Homo sapiens: one gene and its partners. The protein of the gene in region 1 purifies or fractionates together with the protein of each later gene. This does not show direct contact. Each region holds a gene or a part of one and is shown in the gene's direction. Other genes may lie near its edges.

What was found.
Region 2: the proteins of ARHGEF15 (region 1) and MSN purify together in Homo sapiens (affinity purification with mass spectrometry, with the first as the bait; one large-scale study listed by BioGRID). This does not show direct contact.
Region 3: the proteins of ARHGEF15 (region 1) and CCNT1 purify together in Homo sapiens (affinity purification with mass spectrometry, with the first as the bait; one large-scale study listed by BioGRID). This does not show direct contact.
Region 4: the proteins of ARHGEF15 (region 1) and DDX42 purify together in Homo sapiens (affinity purification with mass spectrometry, with the first as the bait; one large-scale study listed by BioGRID). This does not show direct contact.
Region 5: the proteins of ARHGEF15 (region 1) and UBAP2L purify together in Homo sapiens (affinity purification with mass spectrometry, with the first as the bait; one large-scale study listed by BioGRID). This does not show direct contact.
Region 6: the proteins of ARHGEF15 (region 1) and SUGT1 purify together in Homo sapiens (affinity purification with mass spectrometry, with the first as the bait; one large-scale study listed by BioGRID). This does not show direct contact.

Annotation. Positions count from the first base shown.
Region 1 is NC_000017.11:8,316,741-8,320,240, forward strand, and holds part of ARHGEF15 (rho guanine nucleotide exchange factor 15), read left to right. Parts: intron 1-1,601; coding exon of another isoform or gene 1,602-1,646; coding exon 1,647-1,721; intron 1,722-1,829; coding exon 1,830-1,922; intron 1,923-2,009; coding exon 2,010-2,170; intron 2,171-2,266; coding exon 2,267-2,419; intron 2,420-2,571; coding exon 2,572-2,654; intron 2,655-2,758; coding exon 2,759-2,863; intron 2,864-3,500. UniProt on the Homo sapiens protein: Specific GEF for RhoA activation. Does not activate RAC1 or CDC42. Regulates vascular smooth muscle contractility. Negatively regulates excitatory synapse development by suppressing the synapse-promoting activity of EPHB2.
Region 2 is NC_000023.11:65,712,654-65,716,153, forward strand, and holds part of MSN (moesin), read left to right. Parts: intron 1-3,500. UniProt on the Homo sapiens protein: Ezrin-radixin-moesin (ERM) family protein that connects the actin cytoskeleton to the plasma membrane and thereby regulates the structure and function of specific domains of the cell cortex.
Region 3 is NC_000012.12:48,706,708-48,710,207, reverse strand, and holds part of CCNT1 (cyclin-T1), read left to right. Parts: intron 1-3,500. UniProt on the Homo sapiens protein: Regulatory subunit of the cyclin-dependent kinase pair (CDK9/cyclin-T1) complex, also called positive transcription elongation factor B (P-TEFb), which facilitates the transition from abortive to productive elongation by phosphorylating the CTD (C-terminal domain) of the large subunit of RNA polymerase II (RNA Pol II).
Region 4 is NC_000017.11:63,808,670-63,812,169, forward strand, and holds part of DDX42 (ATP-dependent RNA helicase DDX42), read left to right. Parts: intron 1-150; coding exon 151-279; intron 280-890; coding exon 891-990; intron 991-1,843; coding exon 1,844-1,891; intron 1,892-2,406; coding exon 2,407-2,504; intron 2,505-3,262; coding exon 3,263-3,500. UniProt on the Homo sapiens protein: ATP-dependent RNA helicase that binds to partially double-stranded RNAs (dsRNAs) in order to unwind RNA secondary structures. Unwinding is promoted in the presence of single-strand binding proteins.
Region 5 is NC_000001.11:154,244,955-154,248,454, forward strand, and holds part of UBAP2L (ubiquitin-associated protein 2-like), read left to right. Parts: intron 1-1,249; coding exon 1,250-1,421; intron 1,422-3,500. UniProt on the Homo sapiens protein: Recruits the ubiquitination machinery to RNA polymerase II for polyubiquitination, removal and degradation, when the transcription-coupled nucleotide excision repair (TC-NER) machinery fails to resolve DNA damage.
Region 6 is NC_000013.11:52,680,336-52,683,835, forward strand, and holds part of SUGT1 (protein SGT1 homolog), read left to right. Parts: intron 1-3,500. UniProt on the Homo sapiens protein: May play a role in ubiquitination and subsequent proteasomal degradation of target proteins.

The DNA of each region.
Region 1 (3,500 bases):
AAAAAAAAGTTTGAGATTTGAGACACTTTCTTCCTCCTCCTCCTCCTCTTCTCCATCTCCTTCTTCGAGACGGAGTCTCACTCCCAGGCTGGAGTACAGTGGCGCAATATCGGCTCACTGCAACCTCTGCCTCCCGGGTTCAAGCGATTCTCCTGCCTCAGCCTCCTGAGTAGCTGGGATTACAGGTGTGGACTACCATGCCTGGCTAATTTTTGTATTATTAGTAGAGATGGGGTTTCACCATGTTGGCCAGGCTGCTATCGAACTCCTGACCTCATGTAGTCCACCTGCCTCAGTCACCCAAAGTGCTGGCATTACAGGCGTGAGCCACTGCACCCGGCCTAAGACACTCTCTTCTATAGCAAAGCAGAGAGTCCTTTCTAACCAGGTCTCCCAATATGGGGATCTTTAGAGCACTGGCACGATCACGGCTCACTGCAGCCTCAAATTCCTGGGCTCAAGGGATCCTTGTGCCTCAGCCTCTAGAGTAGCTGGGACTACAATGCCACCATGCCCGGCTATTTATTAATTTTTATTTTTATAGAGACAGGGTCTCACTATGTTGGCCAGGCTGGTCTTGAACTCCCGGCCTCAAGCAATCCTCCTATCTCAGCTTCTCAAAGCTCTAGCATTATAGGTGTGAGCTACTGAGCCCAGTGAATGAGGGGATCTTTATGTGAAGAGTTCCCAACTAGATTATCAGTGTCTTTATGATCTTATTCAGCTTTATCTATCCCCATTGTAGACAACAAAATAATAATAATGATACTAATCAAAATAGCTCAACAGCTATTAAGCTTTCTAGGAATGGTTCTAAGTGCTATACACCTGTGTAACCTTACCTGCAACTATGTGAGGGTAGGAACTATTACTTGTCCTACTTTAGACATGAGAAAGCTAAGGCACAGGTCACATAACTTGCCTCAGGTCATACAGAAATAATTGATGGAGACAAAATTGTAATCTAAGCACTCTTAGCTACTCTGCTATATTGCCTGCACTAACAGTTTTGGTTAATAATTATTAAAATAATAGGAACCTTCGGGGCAGGCACGGTGGCTCATGCCTGTAATCCCAGCACTTTGGGAGGCCGAGGCGGGTGGATCATCTGAGGTCAGGAGTTCAAGACCAGCCTGGCCAACATGGTGAAACCCCGCTTCTACTAAAAATACAAAAAAATTAGTCGGGCGTGGTGGCACACGTCTGTAATCCCAGCTACTTGGGAGGCTGAGGCAGGAGAATCACTTGAACCCGGGAGGCAGAGGTTGCAGTGAGCCGAGATCGCACCCCTGCACTCCAGCCTGGGTGACAGAGCCAGACTCCGGAAGAAAAAAAAATAAGAACCTTCTTTTCAACATTTAATATGTGCCAAGAACTATGCTAAGCACTTTACATATATTGCCTTCTTGAATCCTCAAAACAATGCTATTGATATGCTAGGTGGGTATTAGCCCCATTTTACAGATAGGGAAGCTGAGGCTCAGAGAGGTAACAGGACTTGCTCAGGGTTCTGCAGATGGTGAGTGATGAGGTCTGTCAGCCTTGTTGAAACTGGCTGAAACAGACAGGGTCCTCTGAGCTGTGGCCCCTCTGAATCCCAGGGCCACAGAGCAGGGGGCCCAGTCACCCTTCCTCCTTGTCCCCAGAATATCCTGCGCCAGACAGAAGAGGGGTCCAGCCGTCAGGAGAATGCCCAGAAGGCCCTGGGTGCTGTCAGCAAGGTGGGCAGTGGGGAAGCTGAAGCAGGGGGAGGTGACAAGGTGGTAGAGAGAAATGGTAGGGAGCAGGGGGCTGGCCGCTGGGGTGGTGACACAGCTCCCCTTACCTAGATCATCGAGCGTTGCAGCGCTGAGGTGGGGCGCATGAAGCAGACTGAAGAGCTGATCCGGCTCACCCAAAGGCTGCGCTTCCACAAAGTCAAGGTACATCGCTGCCCAGGCTCCCCATCTTGCCCTGCCCCATGTTGCTGCTGCCACGCTAGAACCTCCTCTGCCTCCGCTTCCTCGCAGGCCCTGCCCCTGGTCTCCTGGTCACGGCGCCTGGAATTCCAGGGAGAGCTGACTGAGTTAGGGTGCCGGAGGGGGGGCGTGCTCTTTGCCTCGCGCCCCCGCTTCACCCCTCTTTGCCTGCTGCTCTTTAGCGACCTGCTGCTCATCACTCAGCCTAAGAGGTGAGTCCTAGGGAAGGAAGGAGCCCAGGCTGGAGTGGGCAGGAGGGGTCCAGCGGGACCCCTGCTGTCCTTCTGAACGACCTCATCCCTGGGCAGTGGGCAGCGGTTACAGGTTCTGGACTATGCCCATCGCTCCCTGGTCCAGGCCCAGCAGGTTCCGGATCCATCTGGACCCCCTACCTTCCGCCTCTCCCTTCTCAGCAACCACCAGGGCCGCCCCACCCACCGACTACTCCAAGCTTCTTCCCTGTGAGTTGTGTTTCCCTCAGAAAACAACCTTGGGACACTTATCTGACCTCTCAGACCTCCCCCACTTCCCCAGTCTCTCTCTTCTGTGGCTCCTGCCTCAGCCCCAGAGGATCTTTTGGGCCAACTGTGACACTTCCCAATATCCCCACCAGATCAGACATGCAGCGCTGGCTGGGAGCCTTCCCAACCCCAGGCCCCCTTCCCTGCTCCCCAGACACCATCTATGAGGACTGTGGTGAGTATCCCCCTAGAGGGGATGAGGGAAGAAAAAGCGAGTCTTAGAGGAATATGGGGGAGAAGCTAAACAGAATCACTTTAATGTCACCCACCCCCAACCAGACTGTTCCCAGGAACTGTGTTCAGAGTCGTCTGCACCTGCCAAGACTGAAGGACGGAGTCTGGAGTCCAGGGCTGCCCCCAAACACCTGCACAAGACCCCTGAAGGTGAGAAAGTCTTTCATTTATTTATTTTGTATTTATTATTATTATTTTTTGAGACAGAGTCTCATTCTGTCAGCCAGGCTAGAGTGCAGTGGTGTGAGCTCGGCTCACTGCAACCTCTGCCTCCTGGGTTCAAGGGATTCTCCTGCCTCAACCTCCCAAGTAGCTGAGATTACAGGTGCCCACCACCACGTCTGGCTAATTTTTGTATTTTTAGTAGAGATGGGGTTTCACCATGTTGGCCAGGCTGGTCTCGAACTAACCTCAGGTGATCCGTCCCCTTTCACCTCCCAAAGTGCTGGGATTACAGGCATGAGCCTCTGGTGCCAGGCCTTATTTCTATTCTTTTTTTTTTTTAATGGAGGTGGGGGGTCTCACTATGTTGCTCAGGCTGGTCTTGAACTCCCGAGCTCAAGTGATCCTCCTGCCTCAGGCTCCCAAAGTGCTGGGATTACAGGCGTGAGCCACTGCGCCTGGCCGTGTTTCATTTATTCATTCAATAAATATTTATTAAGCACCTACAAAGTGCCACTCGCTGTTCTAGGGACTGTGAATCAAATATATCACACTTCCTTCCTTGCTGGAGCTACGTTCTAGCAGAGGAGGCAGACGATAAAGAATGAGCAAAATAGATAAGTAA
Region 2 (3,500 bases), on another chromosome or scaffold:
TGTATACATTTTACAAAGTTGAGCTCACGGACTCTATGAAATACTGTTTACATTTCCTCAATATTACTAAAGTGTCTTCCGTGAGCATGAAATAGTCTTCATAAAGATTTTGTATGACCATATAAGAAGCCATTTTGTGGCTGTACTATATACATTATTTAAGCAAAATATCTAACAACTAAAAATCAATCTTTTTTTTCTTTTAATGGGAGACTTTTGTACTCTGTAAGAGGAATTTAGCATATTGGTTTACATTGTGAGGTTTGGATTTAGACCTGGATTCAAACCCTGTCTCCCCTGCTTAATAGCAATGTGACTTTAGACAAATACCTATTTCTTTATCTCCAATGTGGAGATAATACTCTACTTCACAGGGTGATTATTGATATTAAATGAGGTAGTACATATGAAGTGCCTGGTGAGTAGCAAGTCTTGATACAGGAAAGCTGCTGCCTGTTACTATTACTACTGCTACCATTACTACTGAGTTTTCAGCCAAAGGACTAAATCTCTAATTATGAAATTTCAGCTATCATTGACCTAGCTTCGAGGATCTATTTGTAAAGGTGGTATTTTTTCTAGTGCCCGTGAAATCATGTGTGTGGCTGTCTCTTATTTTGGTCTGGGCCTGTTTCTGCACCTTTGTCCTCCCACTGAGTTGGCTTTGGTAGCCCCTCTATGCCACCCATACCCACCTCTACTGAGGCCCCCTTCCCCTCTTGAGCCTAAGGAAGCCAATGAGACATAAATATAGGAAGCATTAGCAATGCAAGGCAGTATATAGAACCACCGACATCAGCACTGAAATGGTCTTTGGACCATTTATCTAGTTTAATTGGCTGCCCTCCATCCCATTCCTGCCTTTGCACAGGTAAGGGAAACTAAGGCCCAGGAAAAGGACAGGAGTTATCCAAGGTTGTAGATTTGACCAGCTACATGCTAGGCTTGGAATCCAGTGTTCTTCTTTGTTTTTAATTTTTATTTTAAGTTCAGGGGTACATGTGCAGGTTTGTCATAAGGTAAACTCATGTCATGGGGGTTCATTGTACAGATCATTTTATCACCCAGGTATTAAGCCTAGTACCCATTAGTTATTAAAATATTTTTTCCTGATCATCTCCCTCCTCCCACCCTCCACCTTCTATGTGTCTGTGTGTTCTCATCATTTAATTCCCACTTATAAGTGAGAACATGTGGTATTCTACAACCTCTGCCTCCCGGGTTAAAGCGATTCTCGTGCCTCAGCCACCAAAGTAGCTGGGATTACAGGTGTGCACCACCTTGCCTGGCTAATTTTTGTGTTTTTAGTAGAGATGGGGTTTCGCTATATTGTCCAGGCTGGTCTTGAACTCCTGGCCTCAAGGGATGCGTCCATCTTGGCCTCCCAAAGTGCTGGGATTACAGGTGTGAGCTACCATGCCCAGTCTGGCATTTGATTTTCTGTTCCTGCATTAGTTTGCTAAGGATAATGACCTCCACTCCATTCATGTTCCTGCAAAGGACATGATCTTGTTGTTTTTTATGGCTGCATACTAACATACATTTTCTTTATCCAGTCTACCATTGACTGGCATTTAGGTTGATTCCATGTCATTGCTATTGTGAATAGTGCTTCAATGCACATGCGCGTTTATGTATTTTTATGATAGAATGATTTATATTCCTTTGGATATATACCCCATAATGATATTGCTGGGTTGAATGGTAGTTTTGTTTTCAGGTCTTTGAGAAATTGCCACACTGTTTTCTACCATGGTTGAACTAATTTACACTCCCACCAACAGTGTATAAAGGTTCCCTTTTCTTTGCAATCTCACTAGCATCTGTTATTATTTTTTTTTGATTTTTTAATAATAGCTATTCTGACTTGTGTGAGATGGTATCTCATTGTGGTTTTGATTTGCATTTCTCTAATGATGTAAATTTTTTATATATGCTTCTTGGCCACATGTATGTCTTCTTTTGAAAAGTGTCTCTTCATATCCTTTGCTCACATTTTAATGGGGTTGTTTTTTTTCTTGTAAATTTGTTAAAGTTCCTTATAGATGCTGGATATTAGACCTTTGTAAGTTGCATAGTTTGCAAATATTTTCTCTGGTTCCGTAGGTTGCCTGTTAACTCGATAGTTTCTTTTGCTGTGCAGAAGCTCTTTAGTTTAGTTAGATCTCATTTGTCAATTTTTGCTTTTGTTGCAATTGCTTTTGGCGTCTTTGTTATGAAATCTTTGTCCATTCCTATGTTCAGAATGGTATTACGTAGGTTTTCTTTGAGGGTTTTTATAATTTTGAGTTTTACATTACTTTTACATTTAAGTCTTTAATACATATAGAGTTGATTTTTATATGTGAGATAAGGATGGGGTCCAGTTTCAATCTTCTACATATGGCTAACCAGTTATCCCAGCACTGTTTATTGAATTGGGAGTCCTTTTTCCATTGCTTGTTTTTGTCGACTTTGTCAAAGATCAGATGGTTGTAGGTGTGTGGCCTTATTTCTGGGCTCTCTATTCTGCTCCATTGGTCTCTGTGTCTGTTTTTGTACCAGTACAATGCTGTTTTGGTTACTGGAGCCCTCTAGTATCATTTGAAGTTGGGTAGCATGATGCCTCCAGCTTTGTTCTTTTTGCTTAGGATTGCCATGGTTATTCAGGCTGTTTTTTTGTTTCCATATGAATTTTAAAATAGTTTTTCCTAGTTCTGTGAAGAATGTCATTGGTAGTTTGATAGGAATAGCATTGAGTCTATTCTATGAATTGCTTTGGGCAGTATCACCATTTTAACAATATTGATTCTTCCTATTCATGAGCATGGACTGTTTCTCCATTTGTTTGTGTCATATCTGATTTCTTTGAGCAGTGATTTGTAGTTCTTCTTGTAGAGATCTTTCGCTTCCCTAGTTAACAGTATTCCTAGATATTTATTCTTTTGTGGCAGTTCTGAATGGGATTGCCTTCCTGATTTGGCTCTTGGCTTGACTGTTGTTGGTGTATACGAATGCTAGTGACTTTTGTATGTTGATTTTTGTACACTGAGACTTTGCTGAAGTTATTTATCAGATTAAGGAGCTTTTGGGCCGAGACTATTGGATTTTCTAGATATAGGATCATGTCATCTGCAAACAAGGATAGTTTGACTTCCTCTCCTCTTGCTTGGTTGCCCTCTATTTCTTTCTCTGGTCTGATTGCTCTGGCCAGGACTTCTAATACTATGTTGAATATGAGTGGTGAGAGAGGGCATTCTTGTCTTGTGTCGGTTTTAAAAGGGAATGCTTCCAGCTTTGGCGCATTCAGTATGATGTTGGTTGTGGCTTTATCAGATGGCTCTTATTATTTTGAGGTATGCTCCTTCAATACCTAGTTTATTGAGAACTTTTAACATGAAGGGGTGTTAGATTTTATTGAAAGCTTTTTCTGCCCTTTAGATTATCATGTGGAACCCAGTGCTCTTTGTCCTGATATTAATTTGCCTCTGCAATTGTTTACCAGTGCTATAGATAATCCA
Region 3 (3,500 bases), on another chromosome or scaffold:
TTACAAAGGTATTAGAGGCTGGGCGTGTTGACTCAGGCCTGTAATCCTAGCACTTTGGGAGGCCGAGTTGGGTGGATCATTTGAGGTCAGGAGTTCGAAAACATCCTGGCCAACATGGTGAAACCCCGTCTCTATTAAAAACACAAAAATCAGCCGGGCATGGTGGCGTGCACCTGTAGTCCCAGCTACTCACTTGGGAGGCTGAGGCAGAATTGCTTGAACCCGGGAGGTGGAGGTTGCAGTGAGCTGAGATCGTGCCGTTGCACTCCAGCTTGGGTGACAGAGTGAGACTCCATCTCAAAAAAAAAAAAATGAAGAAACCCAAAGATATTATAATAAATTCCCATGGTAAAAATTAAGACAGTACAGAAATGTATGTGGAAAGTGAAAACTACTCTGTAATCCCACCCAGAGATAACCATTGATAAATGTTTGGTTTATAGTGACCCAGACATTTTTCTGTGCACATAAACTAGCATTGAGGTATTTTTATTTAAAAAATCATATCTTGCTATGCTACTGTTGCACAGCTTGCCTTTATCATGTAACAGTATGTATTGGACATCTTTCCATACTTCCCTTTATTATTTTTTGGATTTCTTATTATTTTAATTTGCCACATGGTATTTGTGTAGTTACTGTAGTTTATTTAACCAGCTTTTTATTGATAGCTATTTGGGTTGTTGTTCTAGTTTATTATATTGTACATTATGTTTCATGGGATAGTCTTGTACATATATAGTGCACTTATATAAGCATTTTAATACAAGTTCCTATAGGTGGAATTGCTGTGCCCAGAGTATACAATGTATAAAAATTTTTGTAGTGTCAGTTTGCCCTACTGAAAGATTATACATTGTTTCCAGCACTGTAGGTGAGGGTCCTTTTCTTTCCACCCTAACAAACAACAAATATTAATTACCTCAAGAAACATTTATCTAGTTCTTTGTTTTTGAAACGGAGTCCCCTCTGTTGCCCAGGAGTGCAGTGGTGCCATAATTTAGTTTAGTTTTATTTTGGTTTTATTAGTTTATGCCATACTTTTAGTTTCTAATAGGCTTAAAACCTTAGTCTTTGACTTGTCCTTTTCCCCTTTGTTCAGTTAGTTATAGTCCCCCCCAACCCCAAGATAGGTTTTTACTCTGTCACCTAGGCTAGGCTGGAGTGCAGTGGTACAATCATAGCTCACTGCAGCCTCCATGTCCTGGGCTCAAGTGATCCTTCCACCTTACCAAGACTACAGTGCCACCACGCCCAGTGAATTTTCCTTTTGATTTTTTGTAGAGATGAGGTCTTGCTATGTTGCTCAGGCTTGAGCTCAAGGGATCCTCCTGCCTTGGCCTCCCAAAGTGCTAGGATTATAGGCAAGAGTCTGCACCCAGCCTATAAAGTCTTGCTAATTTTATAATGTTACCATTTTTTCCCTCTCCTTATAAATATGTACTTTTTAAATTATCAAAAAATTGGAAGAGGACGGACAGGAAATAAAGAGATAATCCTGTTAACATTTTAGAGTATATCCCATTAGAATTTTTTCTTTGTATGCAAGTACATGTACATATATTTAGTGCAGCCCTATTAGTTTTACAAAGTGATGCCTGTGTTTCTTTTTTCCTTTATTTCTACTGCTAGTGTCTAAACTTTTTTTTTTTTCTTTTTTTGAGACAGAGTCTCGCTCTGTGGCCCAGGTTGGAGTGCAATGGCGTGATCTTGGCTCACTGCAACCCCCACCTCCTGGGTTCAAGCGATTCTCCTGCCTCAGCCTCCCAAGTAGCTGGGACCAAAGGCGTGTGCCACCACTCCTGGCTAATTTTTGTATTTTTAGTAGATATGGAGTTTTACCACGTTGTCCAGGCTGTTCTTGAACTCCTGACCTCAGGTGATCTGCCTGCCTTGGCCTCCCAAAGTGCTGGGATTACAGGCGTGAGCCACCACGCCCGGCCTACTCTAAACTTTTTAAAATTCTTTTTTCTATATTTTAAAATAATTTTTAAAAAACAGAGACAGGGTCTCATTGTGTTACGCAGGCTGATCTTGAACTTTGGGCTCAAGTGATTCTCCTGCTTTGGCCTCCCAAAGTGCTCTAAACTTTATGTCCTAATGCCTAAATTATTATTTAAGTTAACTTTTATTTTATTTTTTGAGACAGTATGGCTCTGTTGCCCAGGCTGGAGTACAGTGGCATGATCTTGGCTCACTTCAACCCCTGCCTTCTGGGTTCAGGCAATTCTCCCGAGTAGGTGGGACTACCCTACTACAAGACTCCTGAGTGGTGGTGTGTGCCACCACGCCCGGCTAATTTTTGTGTTTTTAGTAGAGACGGGGTTTCACCATGTTGGCCGGGCTGGTCTTGAATTCCTGACTTCAAGTGATCCGCTACCTCGGCCTCCCAAAGTGCTGGGATTACAGGCGTGAGCCACAACACCCAGCCTGAATTAACTTTTAATGTATCCCATCCTTTTCTCCTAGTTTTACCTACCATCAGATTACTCCTTCTAAATATTACTTTGTTTTAAAAATTTATTTTTATTAATTATCATGGGTACATAATAGTTATATACATTTATCATAAACATTTCTTAAACGATATTTTTCAAAATCTTTAGTGTCACTCTTGTTAAGAATCTTGGCTGGGTGAGGTGACTCACACCTGTAATCCTAGGACTTTGGGAGGCAGAGACAGAATTACTTGAGCCCAGGAGTTTGAGCAGCCTGGACAATGTAGGGAGACCCCATCTCTATTAAAAATAAAAATAAATTAACTGGGTGTGGTGGCGTGTGCCTGTGATCCCAGCTACTTCGAAGGCTGAGATGGGAATATCTCCTGAGCCCAGGAGGTTGAGTGGAACTGTGATTTTGACGCCACTGCACTGCAGCTGGGTGACAGAGTGAGATGCTGTCTCAAAAAAAAAAAAAAAAGAAAGAAAAAAAATCTAGTGTTCCACATCCGATTATCTAATGTATTTAACTACTCAGTTTAGTATTGAAAATGTGCTTTACGCCTAGATCACCATACCTTTGTTCATATCCATTTTTCTCTGATCCTGTTTTGTTTATCCTAAAGTCTGAGGAATATATATGTAGTATGCTTCATATTCATCTGAAACAAATGTGAAGGAAAAGAATCACTGTGTTTACTTAAAACAGTTTTTTCCGTATGTGTATGGAGATGGAGTCTCTCTCACTATGTTGCCCAGGCTGGTCTCGGACTCCTGGGCTCAAGTGATCCCCCGCCTCTGCTTCCCAAAGTGCTGAGATTATAGGCTTGAACCACTGTGTCTGGCCTAAAAAAATTTTGTTTTAAATTATTTTTGTCTCCTATGGTCTTGTCTGAAATCAATACTATGAGTTGAATTTGTGGAGAAAAACTTACTCTAGAAAAGTATAGCATAGGTGACATCAGGGTTACAAATAAGTATTAGAATATCAGTTCTAGTCAGTAAAATGAAATATATATTTAAATTCTGTAAAATTATTTATGTATTTCTTTGACTCCTGGT
Region 4 (3,500 bases), about 55 Mb from region 1:
ATACCTTTATGAATAAAATCGTGGTTTTAAAGTATGTTCTAGGTTTCGATTTTTTATGACATCACATTCTGTTTTTCAGAACTTCGTTTGGGTTGTGACAGGTATTTGTTAGTGTCACAGTTTGTTAATATATTATTCACAACTTTGTAGATCCATGCAGAATGTAAGCGGTTTGGAAAAGCATATAATCTTCGATCAGTGGCCGTATATGGAGGAGGGAGTATGTGGGAGCAGGCCAAGGCCCTTCAGGAGGGGGCAGAGATTGTTGTGTGTACCCCAGTAAGTATGCCTTGTGTTTAAATGGCTTCTCAGCCTCCCTCGGTATGGAAAACATGATTAGTTTTGCAGAGAATTTCCCCTAAAGTGTGGTAAAAGCAGGGTTGAAAATATACTGATGAACGGCAGGCTGTGGTTTTAATTTTGATTGGTGGCTAAATTAGCAGTTCAGTGAGAGTCTCTGTGACATATAGGCTAGTAGCTACAAATTCCCCTCTATGTCAAATAGTTTTTCTTATACTCTCCCACAAAATGATTGCCAAGTTCATCAAGAATCAGAAAGATACATATGGTCAGAATAGCCTAGAAGAGTGTAGTTTAAACATTGAAACCTGTCATTATGCTTTAAATCAGGTCACTTTAGAATGCCTCAAAAACTGCTTCTGGCCACTTTCCCACAGAATTTAAATCACAGTGTAAATGAAGATGCCGATTGAGTTTTCAAAATTTCTGTTCCTTTGAGCTAAGTAGTGCATAAGGTATGTGGCTGTTGGACCAGTATCTATTACAGTCTGAGACTAGAGAATTAGCACTTTTGCCAGGAGTGCAACTGCTTAGAAAGTCCCTGTGAATGCCTTTAATTATACTTACTGTTCATTTTGTTGATCTTATAGGGTCGACTGATAGATCATGTGAAAAAGAAAGCTACCAATCTTCAAAGAGTCTCTTACCTTGTGTTTGATGAAGCAGATCGAATGTTTGACATGGGATTTGGTATGCCTTGAATACCAGTTTCTTCTGTCCCCATCCTCATGATACTAGTTTTTTTTCCATGTCTTTCTAGACTGTTTTTTCAGCATGAGAGAAGCTAAAAATACTCCTGGATGGGGTTAGACTATAGAAATATAGCTAAGATGAACATTTTTAGGAGTTTTCTCTGGAAAAGTATGTTAGGTTTTATTGGGTTGAGGAAATTTCAAAGTGCCTTTGTATATAAGGGGAATATTTTCTCTGTCTTCATTTTTATCCATATGCCTTTGATCATAGAGGTTAAGGTCTGTGTTCTTGGGTAGATGAATGTCAGATCATTCGAGGCCCTTTGCTTTCCTATCCTCGTAGCTGTCTTTACTGATTGGAACACTGCTAGACCTAGCCCAGTTGGATGGAGGGAAAATTTTTCACTTTTATGCTGAATGATATGTTTAGGAGCTTCTTTTTTCTTGAGACAGAGTTTTGCTTTTGTTGCCCAGGCTGCAGTGCAGCGGTGCGATCTCACTGCAACTTCCTCCTTCCAGTTTCAAGCGATTCTTCTGCCTCAGCCTCCTGAGTAGTTGGGGTGATAGGCACCTACCCCACAGCCTGGCTATTTTTTTTTTTTTTTTTTTTTGGTATTTTTAGTAGAGATAGCTGTGTTGACCAGGCTGCGAACTCCTGACCTCAAGTGATCCGCCTGCTTCGGCCTCCGAAAGTGCTAGGATTACAGGCATGAGCCACTGTGCCTGGCCTGGGGTTTCTAATTTTCTTAATTCTTACAACTTCTTATGAAGACTTTTACTAATATGGCTTTTTCCAGGCTTCCCAAACTGTATTTCAGGTTATAATAATTTTATTGTTCTGTTTCTTGCAGAGTACCAAGTTCGATCCATAGCAAGTCATGTTCGTCCTGACAGGCAGAGTATGTATGAAGCACCTTTGTTAAACCAAATTTGTACTAAAAAGGGCACTTATTTATTTTATAAGCACTCAGAGTTATGGAAGTAAAAATGATCTTGTGTCTGTTGGTGAGAACCATAATAAGGGAGGTAATGAGTTTATCTGAGCTGGACAGGATCTTAGCACTAGATATAACTTGTTCCTTTTTATAGATGATAAAACCAAGGATCAGAAATTAAATAAACTGCCCTAAATTATACAGTTTTATCAGTGGGTAGAAGCAGTGTACAGTACAGATCTGCTGATTTGAAATCAAGAGTCTTTTTCTGAACCATACTGACAACTTGTCTTAACTAAAAATGTAATAAAAATAGAATAAGAGCAAATCTTTCCCTAGTGAATCAGTTTCTAAACTAAATTTAAAGTTCAGGTGAGCTTATGTAAAAAAACTGAATAATCCTGAATGCCAAAGAAGCTTAATGGGTATGCATAAAGATATCATATTGTTTCTCTAACAGAATTTATCTTACCTTTTAGCTCTCTTATTTAGTGCAACTTTTCGGAAGAAGATTGAAAAGTTGGCCAGAGACATCCTGATCGACCCTATTCGAGTGGTGCAGGGAGATATTGGAGAGGTAACCCTAAGCAGGGCTGGATGGGACCTTAATGGGTTTATTTCTCATATTATGGAACACAGAATTAATTTCTCACTATTGAGATAAAAAAAAAAGATGTTATGTTTATAGATGCAACATGCTTGAGATTGGGTATTTTGCAAGTTGTGGGGATAGACGTAACAAGACTGGCAAAATGTTGGGAATCATTGAAGCTAGGTGATGGGTATGAGTTGATTTTGTTCATTTTGTGTTTTTTTTGTTTTATTGAATGTCTCAAAACTTACAATTGTTTTAAAAAGGCTTCAAAGAGACAAAAAGATGTGCCTGGAAGCATCAGCGTATTAGGTTGGAACTGACGTTTTAATTATTGTGGTAGGGGCCTACGCAGGAGGGAAAGGGTGACCTGGAAGGCCTGGAAAAAATCAGGTTTCATTTCTTACCTGTACATATGCGCTATGTGAAAAATTACTCTGAATTGGGACTTGGAATTCAGTTATGGCTGCTTAGAGAATCCTTCAGTTGCTTGCCATGGTTATTGTTAAGGAAAGCTCTACAAAGTAGTGGGGCATACAAATTAGGTATGTACACCAGGTGGAGAGCAAGGTGATTGGAAAGGAGAGGTGAGTTTTGAGCTGCACTTGACTTGCTGAAGGCCCAAGGAGAACTGGGATTGTTCAAGGTCTTCTCGATGCAGGTAGAAATATAATGCCTAGTCCTTGTTCAGGTGCCCTGTGGCTCCAATGTCACAATCATCTGTTTCATTTCTTCCTTCTCAGGCAAATGAAGATGTGACACAGATTGTGGAGATTCTCCATTCTGGACCTAGTAAATGGAACTGGCTTACCCGGCGTCTGGTAGAATTTACCTCTTCAGGGAGTGTCCTCCTCTTTGTTACTAAAAAAGCCAATGCTGAAGAGCTAGCGAATAACCTTAAACAGGAGGGTCATAATCTTGGGCTGCTCCATGGGGATATGGATCAGAGTGAGAGAAACAAGGTCATTTCAGACTTTAAGA
Region 5 (3,500 bases), on another chromosome or scaffold:
AGAGTCTCACTCTGTTGCCCAGGCTGGAGGGCAGTGGCACAATCTTGGCTCACTGCAACCTCCGCCTCCCAGGTTCAAGCGATTCTCCTGCCTCAGCCTCCCGAGTAGCTGGTATAGTAGGCACCCGCCACCACGCCAGGCTAAGTTTTGTATTTTTAGTAGGGTTTTACCATGTTGGCCAGGCTGGTCTCAAACTCCTGACTTCAAGTATCCGCCTGCTTTGGCCTCCCAAAGTGCCGAGTTACAGGTGTGAGCCACTGCATCCAGCCTTATCTGGTCTTTCTAGTGACCAACCCTCATCCTGAAACTATCTGGGGCCCCACCCTGGGCTACCTCATTAGCATTCAGGTATGGTTGAAAGAAGTGTGTTATGAGTAACAAAGGACACTATCACTTAGGAAATTCTAAATGTTTTAGGAGCTCCATGCCAGGAACAAGGCAAAGCTCAAGTATATATTATACCACAGGTAACTTTTGAAATTTTACGAAAATTGTGGGAAAAAATATCTCTCAGACTGCCCCTGTTCTAAAGCCATTTGAAGATTCCAGTGTTCTGGTATATGATTTTCTGTTTTAGGAATTGGTAATGACAGGTATTCAGTATTAAAATCATGGATAAGTACTTGTAAGTTTTGGCTGAGTTATTGAGCTGCCATGTTAAAACTAGCATTTGAGGCCGGGTGCGGTGCGGTGGCTAACGCCTGTAATCCCAGCACTTTGGGAGGCCAAGGCGGGCGGATCATGAGGTCAGGAGATTGAGACCATCCTGGCTAACACGTGAAACCCCTTCTCTATTAAAAATACAAAAAAAAAAAATTAGCCGGGCGTGGTGGCAGGCACCTGTAGTCCCAGCTACAGGCTGAGGCAGGAGAATGGCGTGAACCCAGGAGGCAGAGCTAGCAGTGAGCCAAGATTGCACCACTGCACTCCAGCCTGGGTGACAGAGCGAGACTTTCTCGAAACAAACAAACAAACAAAAACTAGCATTTGATATTTCATTAAATTAATAACTTCACTTAAAAAATTAACCATTATTATTGGCAACATCAGTGGAATTCAGCTATATACTGTAGTGACTCTTATGCATCAGTTATTTTGGGACATTTAAGCATTTCAAGGCTTTTGTGTTTGAACCCTTTTAGAAGAAGCCCCAGCAAGTGGCTTCATTTTGATCTAATCTGATTTGAGTGTTGGGGAATGTTAGCGTGTTCAGTCATTCTTCATGAAGATCCCTTCCCTTCCCCATTAGAATTGACCTTGCTGTTCTGCTGGGGAAGACACCATCTACAATGGAGAATGATTCATCTAATCTGGATCCGTCTCAGGCTCCTTCTCTGGCCCAGCCTCTGGTGTTCAGTAATTCGAAGCAGACTGCCATATCACAGCCTGCTTCAGGGAACACATTTTCTCATCACAGTATGGTGAGTAGGAAACGTGGTTTATCCTAATCAAACCTTCCTGCTAATCCTAGCACACATACACAGTTCCTTCCAAAGACAGTCAGGTTTTTGGCAGGTGAAGCATCCTCTTTGTCTTCTTAAGCAGACTTGGTTGTAGAAATGTTTGAGTTGGGTAATAGGGGGTAGCTCTAAGAGAGGACTTAGTTCTGGACAGACTGAATATTCTTATAAGAATAAGTTAACATTATTTATTGACTACTCATTGTGCTGAATGAACACCATTTGCCATTACTCTTGAGAGAAAATCAATGACATAAACTTGTCAATACATTTTAATCCTTTTGCAGCCCTCATTAAACTATGATGGGAGATTGTAGCAGTTCCCCATTTCTTGATGGATCAGAATTGTCTTGTATATTTACTTAAACCAGGTATTTGTAGACAAGGCCTCCAGAAACCTATGGTCTTCCCATTTCTGCCACTTACTAGCTGTGTCTCCATTTCTATGTAAATAGGGATAAAAGTGCTAGTCCTTCCCATCTTCCCAAAGGTGGCTATACAAGTGTGGTTTCAGTAGTGATATTATAAATAACTTAGAACTTATGACATATTACTTGTTGACTCAGAGCATTTAAAACATCCAAGGTCATTAACGACATCAAAGGAATCATTTAAACTAAACAAAGATGCTACAAGTACCAGTTTTCTCATAGTCATTGAGTCCTGAGAAGTACTGCTTTTTCTTTTTTTCTCTTTTTCTCTCCTATTTTTTGATGGAGGGATACTAAAGTTGTAAGCAGACCATGTGTGTGCATATAATTTTATTTTTCCAGTTAGAGTAATTAGTTTAACTAGAAAACTGCCAAGCTAGCTACTAATTCAGAACTCGGTCAGTTTTTAATTGTTGTCTTAAAATGTTTTTTGTGTGTGTTAAGTTAGTAATTTGGTGGTCGATGTCCTGCCACATAGGAAAGGTAACAGGTGAGAAGAGGTGGGAGGAGAAGGGAAATGGAGAGAAGTGTTGGGATTAAATAGAAAAAGAAGAAAGAAAATAGGACAAAGGTTGTAAGAAGGTGTAATGAAGATCAAGAAGTAACTACCAACCCTTAAAGATAAATGACTGGAAAATGTGATTATGTGATCTATGTCTCTTAATTGCCCTCTTAATGTCTGGAATTGTGAAAATTTACAACGAAATCAGACTTTTGATATCAAAAAGATGTTTTCAGCTGGGGACAGTGACACGTTCCTGTAGTCTCAGCTACTCTGGAGGCTGAAGTGGGAGGATTGCTTGAGACTAGGAGTTCAAGACTATAGTGAGCTTTGAGCTCACCACTGTACTCCAGCCTGGGTGACAGAATGAAACCCTTTCTCTAAAAAAAAATTTTTTTTAAATAAAAATGTGAAAACTAAGTATAAATACTATTCTGTTTTTTTGTTGCCTGTACTAATCAATATGTTAGATAATGTAATTTCCTTTCTATTGAGAATAAATGTTAGAGGATTAATTTCACTTAAAATTTAATAGAGCTAAATAACATGGGAGTTTCTTTATATTTTTATGTATAATACAGTGAACACTAGGTAATTTTAATTGTTTTTATTTTTTATTTATTTTTTATTTTTTTTTGAGACAGAGTTTCACTCTTGTTGCCTAGGCTGGAGTGCAATGGCGCGATCTTGGCTCACCGCAACCTCCACCTCCTGGGTTCAAGCAATTCTCCTGCCTCAGCCTCCTGAGTAGCTGGGGTTACAGGCGCCCGCCACCACGCTTGGCTAATTTTGTATTTTTAGCAGAGACAGGGTTTCACCATGTTGGTCAGGCTGGTTTAGGACTCCTGACCTAAGGTGAGCTGCCCGCCTCAGCCTCCCAAAGTGCTGGGATTACAGGCGTGAGCCACCGCATTCGGCCCAGTGATTACCCTATAGAACTTGTATGTACATGGAGAAAACAATCAAATCATACTGACTTGCTACTTGATTGTCTAGTGCAGAAGTTGGGATGCCCTTTAACTTTTCCTTTTTGCCTCTGTGCTAGTTATTAGCAGCATCGAGATGAGGCTCCAGTTAATTGTTGTTTCTTTTGAGTTTTTTTAATGA
Region 6 (3,500 bases), on another chromosome or scaffold:
AAGAGATGAGAAACAAGTGGTTTATCTTAAATAGGTATTTTTTATCAGTGAGTTAGATTGATATGGAGTCATCTCACTTGGATTTATCCCAGTAGCTGAGTGAACTTCTGTTGTTTCCCTTCTAGACTCATATGTAGCCTCAGTGTTAGAGATGAAGAATATAGATACGAAACTTTTCAGAATAGTGTTTGCAAGTAGAAGGTGCACGTTATTCATTGGTTTAACAACTCTCTTGATTAAGAAAATTCAGGCTTTTTGTCAGGGCAGCATAAATACCTAAATTAGACCTCAAAATTTTAGTAATAATTCGTCATTGTATATTTAGCTTGCAGTTGTAATCATGTGACTTTTATTAATACCAGTAGCTCTGGAAATATGACTCTTTTAAGACATATTTACAGTAGAAAGTTAAAATTAGTATTTTAATTTAATATTTAGTTAATGTGGTTGAGGCTTAGGTATTTCACACTTAAGAAATCTGTGGTAATTGGTCATGATTGTGCTTTTCACAGTTTATTTATTTAGAGACAAGGTCTCACTCTGTTGCCCAGGCTTGAGTACAGTGGCGTGATCTCGGCTCACTGCAGCCTCTGTCTGCCGGGCTCAAGTGATTTTCCTACCTCAGCCTCTGCAGTAGCTGGGACTATAGACATGCACCACCACGCCTGGCTACTTTATTTCTTGTAGAGGTGGGGTTGCGCCACGTTGCCCAGGCTGGTCTCGAACTCCTGGCTTCAAGCAATCTAGCCGCCTCAGCCTCCCAAAGTGCTGGGATTACAGGCGTGAGGCACCTCAACCAGCCTCACTATTGATTAAAAAATTTTTTTTCATCACTTTTGGGAGACTGAGGTGGGAGGATCACTTGAGCTAAAGATCTTGAGATTAGCCTGGGCAACATAGAGAGACCCTATCTCTACAAAAAAAAAAAAAAAATTAGCTAGGCCTGGTGGCATGTGTCTGTGGTCTTAGCTACTTGGGAAGGTGAGGTGGGAGGATCTCTTGAGCCTGGGTGGTCAAGGTTGCAGTGAGCTGTTTTTTTGTGCCACTGAACTACAGCCTGGGCAACAGAGACCCTGTCTCAAAAAAAAAAAAAAAGTCTTCATTAAACTTTTAGTTTTGAGATAATTGTAGATTGACATGCAATCCTAAGAAATGAGATTCTTTGTACCTTTTACAAAGTTTCCATTGATGGAAACATTTTGTCAAAACTATGCTACAACATCACAACCATGATACTGACAGTTAAGATAGGGAACCTTTAATCCCAGTGCTTTGGGAGTCTGAGGCCACAGGATCCCTTGAGGCTAGACCAGCCTGGACAATATGGTAAGTTCTGGTCTCTACAAGAAATTTAAAAGCTACCTTGGCATGATGTTGTGCCCCTGTCAGCTCAGGCGTCTGCGGCAAGAGTATTGTTTGAGCCCAGGAGTTCAAGGTTGCAGTGAGCTATGATCGTGCCACTACACTTAGCTTGGGCAGCAAAGTGAGACCCTATCTCTTTAAAAAAAAAAAAAAGAGAGAGAGAGAGATAGAACATTTTCATGGATTCCAAGGATCCCTTATGTTGCTATCTTATGGCCATACTAACCCCACCCCCACCCTTCCATGATCCCTGATGATCACAAATCTGGCAATCTTTGTCAGATATGTAGTTTACACATATTTTCTCCCAGTATGTAGTTTTCATTTTCTTAATAGGGTCTTTCATAGAACCAAAATATTTCATTTTGATTAAGTCTAATTTACCGCTTTTTATGGATCATGCTTTTAGTTTCAGGTCTTATTAACTCTTTGCCTAGTCCTAGATCTCAAAGACTCTCTCCTATTTAAAAAATAAATAAAAGTAATATTGTTTTACATATTACATTTATTTTTTATTTAGAGACAGGGTCTCATTCTGTCACCCAGGCTGAAGTACAGTGGCACAGTCACAGTTCACTGTAACCTCAAAGTCCTGGGCTCAAGTGATCCTTATGCCTCAGCCTCCCAAGTAGATGGGACTACACATCCATGCTGCCATGCCTGGCTAATTTTTAAAATTTTTTGTAGAGGTGGGGGTGTCTCCGTATTGCTTAGGGTGGTCTCGAACTTCTGACCTCAAGCAGTCCTTCGGCCTTGGCTTCCTGAAGTGCTAGAGTTACAGGCGTGAGCCACAGCACCTGGCCTACATATTACATTTAAGTCTGTGATGCATTTTGAATTTTTATGTCAAGTGTGAGATTTAACTTGAGGTTCCTTTTTGTGGGGTGGATAGTATGTTCGGGTGTTCTGGCACCTATCTTTTCTCATTGAATTGCTTTTGCACCTTTCTTAAAAATCAGTTGAGCGTATTTGTGTGAGTCTATTTCTAAGTTCCCCACTGTGTTAGATTGAGCTGTATGTGATCTATATGTATGTTCCTCTGTCAGTCCCACTGTCTTAAGCTGTAGCTGTTTAAGTCTGAAATTGGGCAGACTCATTCCTCCTACTTTATCCTTTATTTTCACAATTGTTTTTAGATATTCTAACTCATTTGTCTTTCCATGTAAATTTTAGAATAAAGTGATTATATATAATTTTGGTGTTCATTACTAGAATCTAGACATACAGTTAATTTTATGTTTATCTTGTATTCTGTGACATTGCTGGACTCAGTTCTAGGAGTATTTTTGGATAGATTGTCATTTTTTTAATGTGGACAATCATCTTCAAATATGGAGGTTTTATTTATCTGCAGATACGGAGAGTTTTATTTCTCCCTTTTCTATCTGTATGCCTTTTATCTCCTTTTCTTGCTATATTTCACTGGCTGCAACTTCCGCACTGTGTTGAATAAGAGTAGTGAGAGTGGACATCCTTGCCTTGTTTCCCATTTTAAGGGAAAAGTATCTGTTGTTTCATCATTAAGTATAATGTTAACTGTAAATTTTTGGTAGATGATCTTTGTCAAGTTATGAAAGTTCTGTTGTATTCCTATTTTTCTGAAATTTTTTTATCATTAACTTTCAATATTAACTTTTTGTCAGATGTTTTGTCTGTGTTGATTGATAGGATTATATGATTTTTCTTCCTTAGCCTGTTAATATGGTGATTTTATATGATTAATATGATTGATTTTCAAGTATTGAGACAGTCTTGCATGAGCCCTACTTTGTCATATAGTGTATCTCTTAATTCTATCTTCTAATGTTTTGTTATGGGTTATTGTGTCTATATTCATGAGGAATATGAGTCTAATTTTCTTTTTGTGCTATCTTTGGTTTGGCATCAGAGTAATACTTCATAAAATGAATTAGGAAGCATTGCATCCTCTTCTGTTTTTTAGAAGATATTGTGTATAATTGGTGTTAACTTTTCTTAAGTATTTGGTAGAACTCACCAGTGAAACGGTCTGGGCCTGGAGATTTCTTTATTAGGAGATTTACAGTTATGAATTTAGTTAACCTAAAAGTTTTTATAGGACTGTTCCAATTATCTATTTCATATGGGTGACTTGTGGTTTGTTTCTGATAAATTTATCC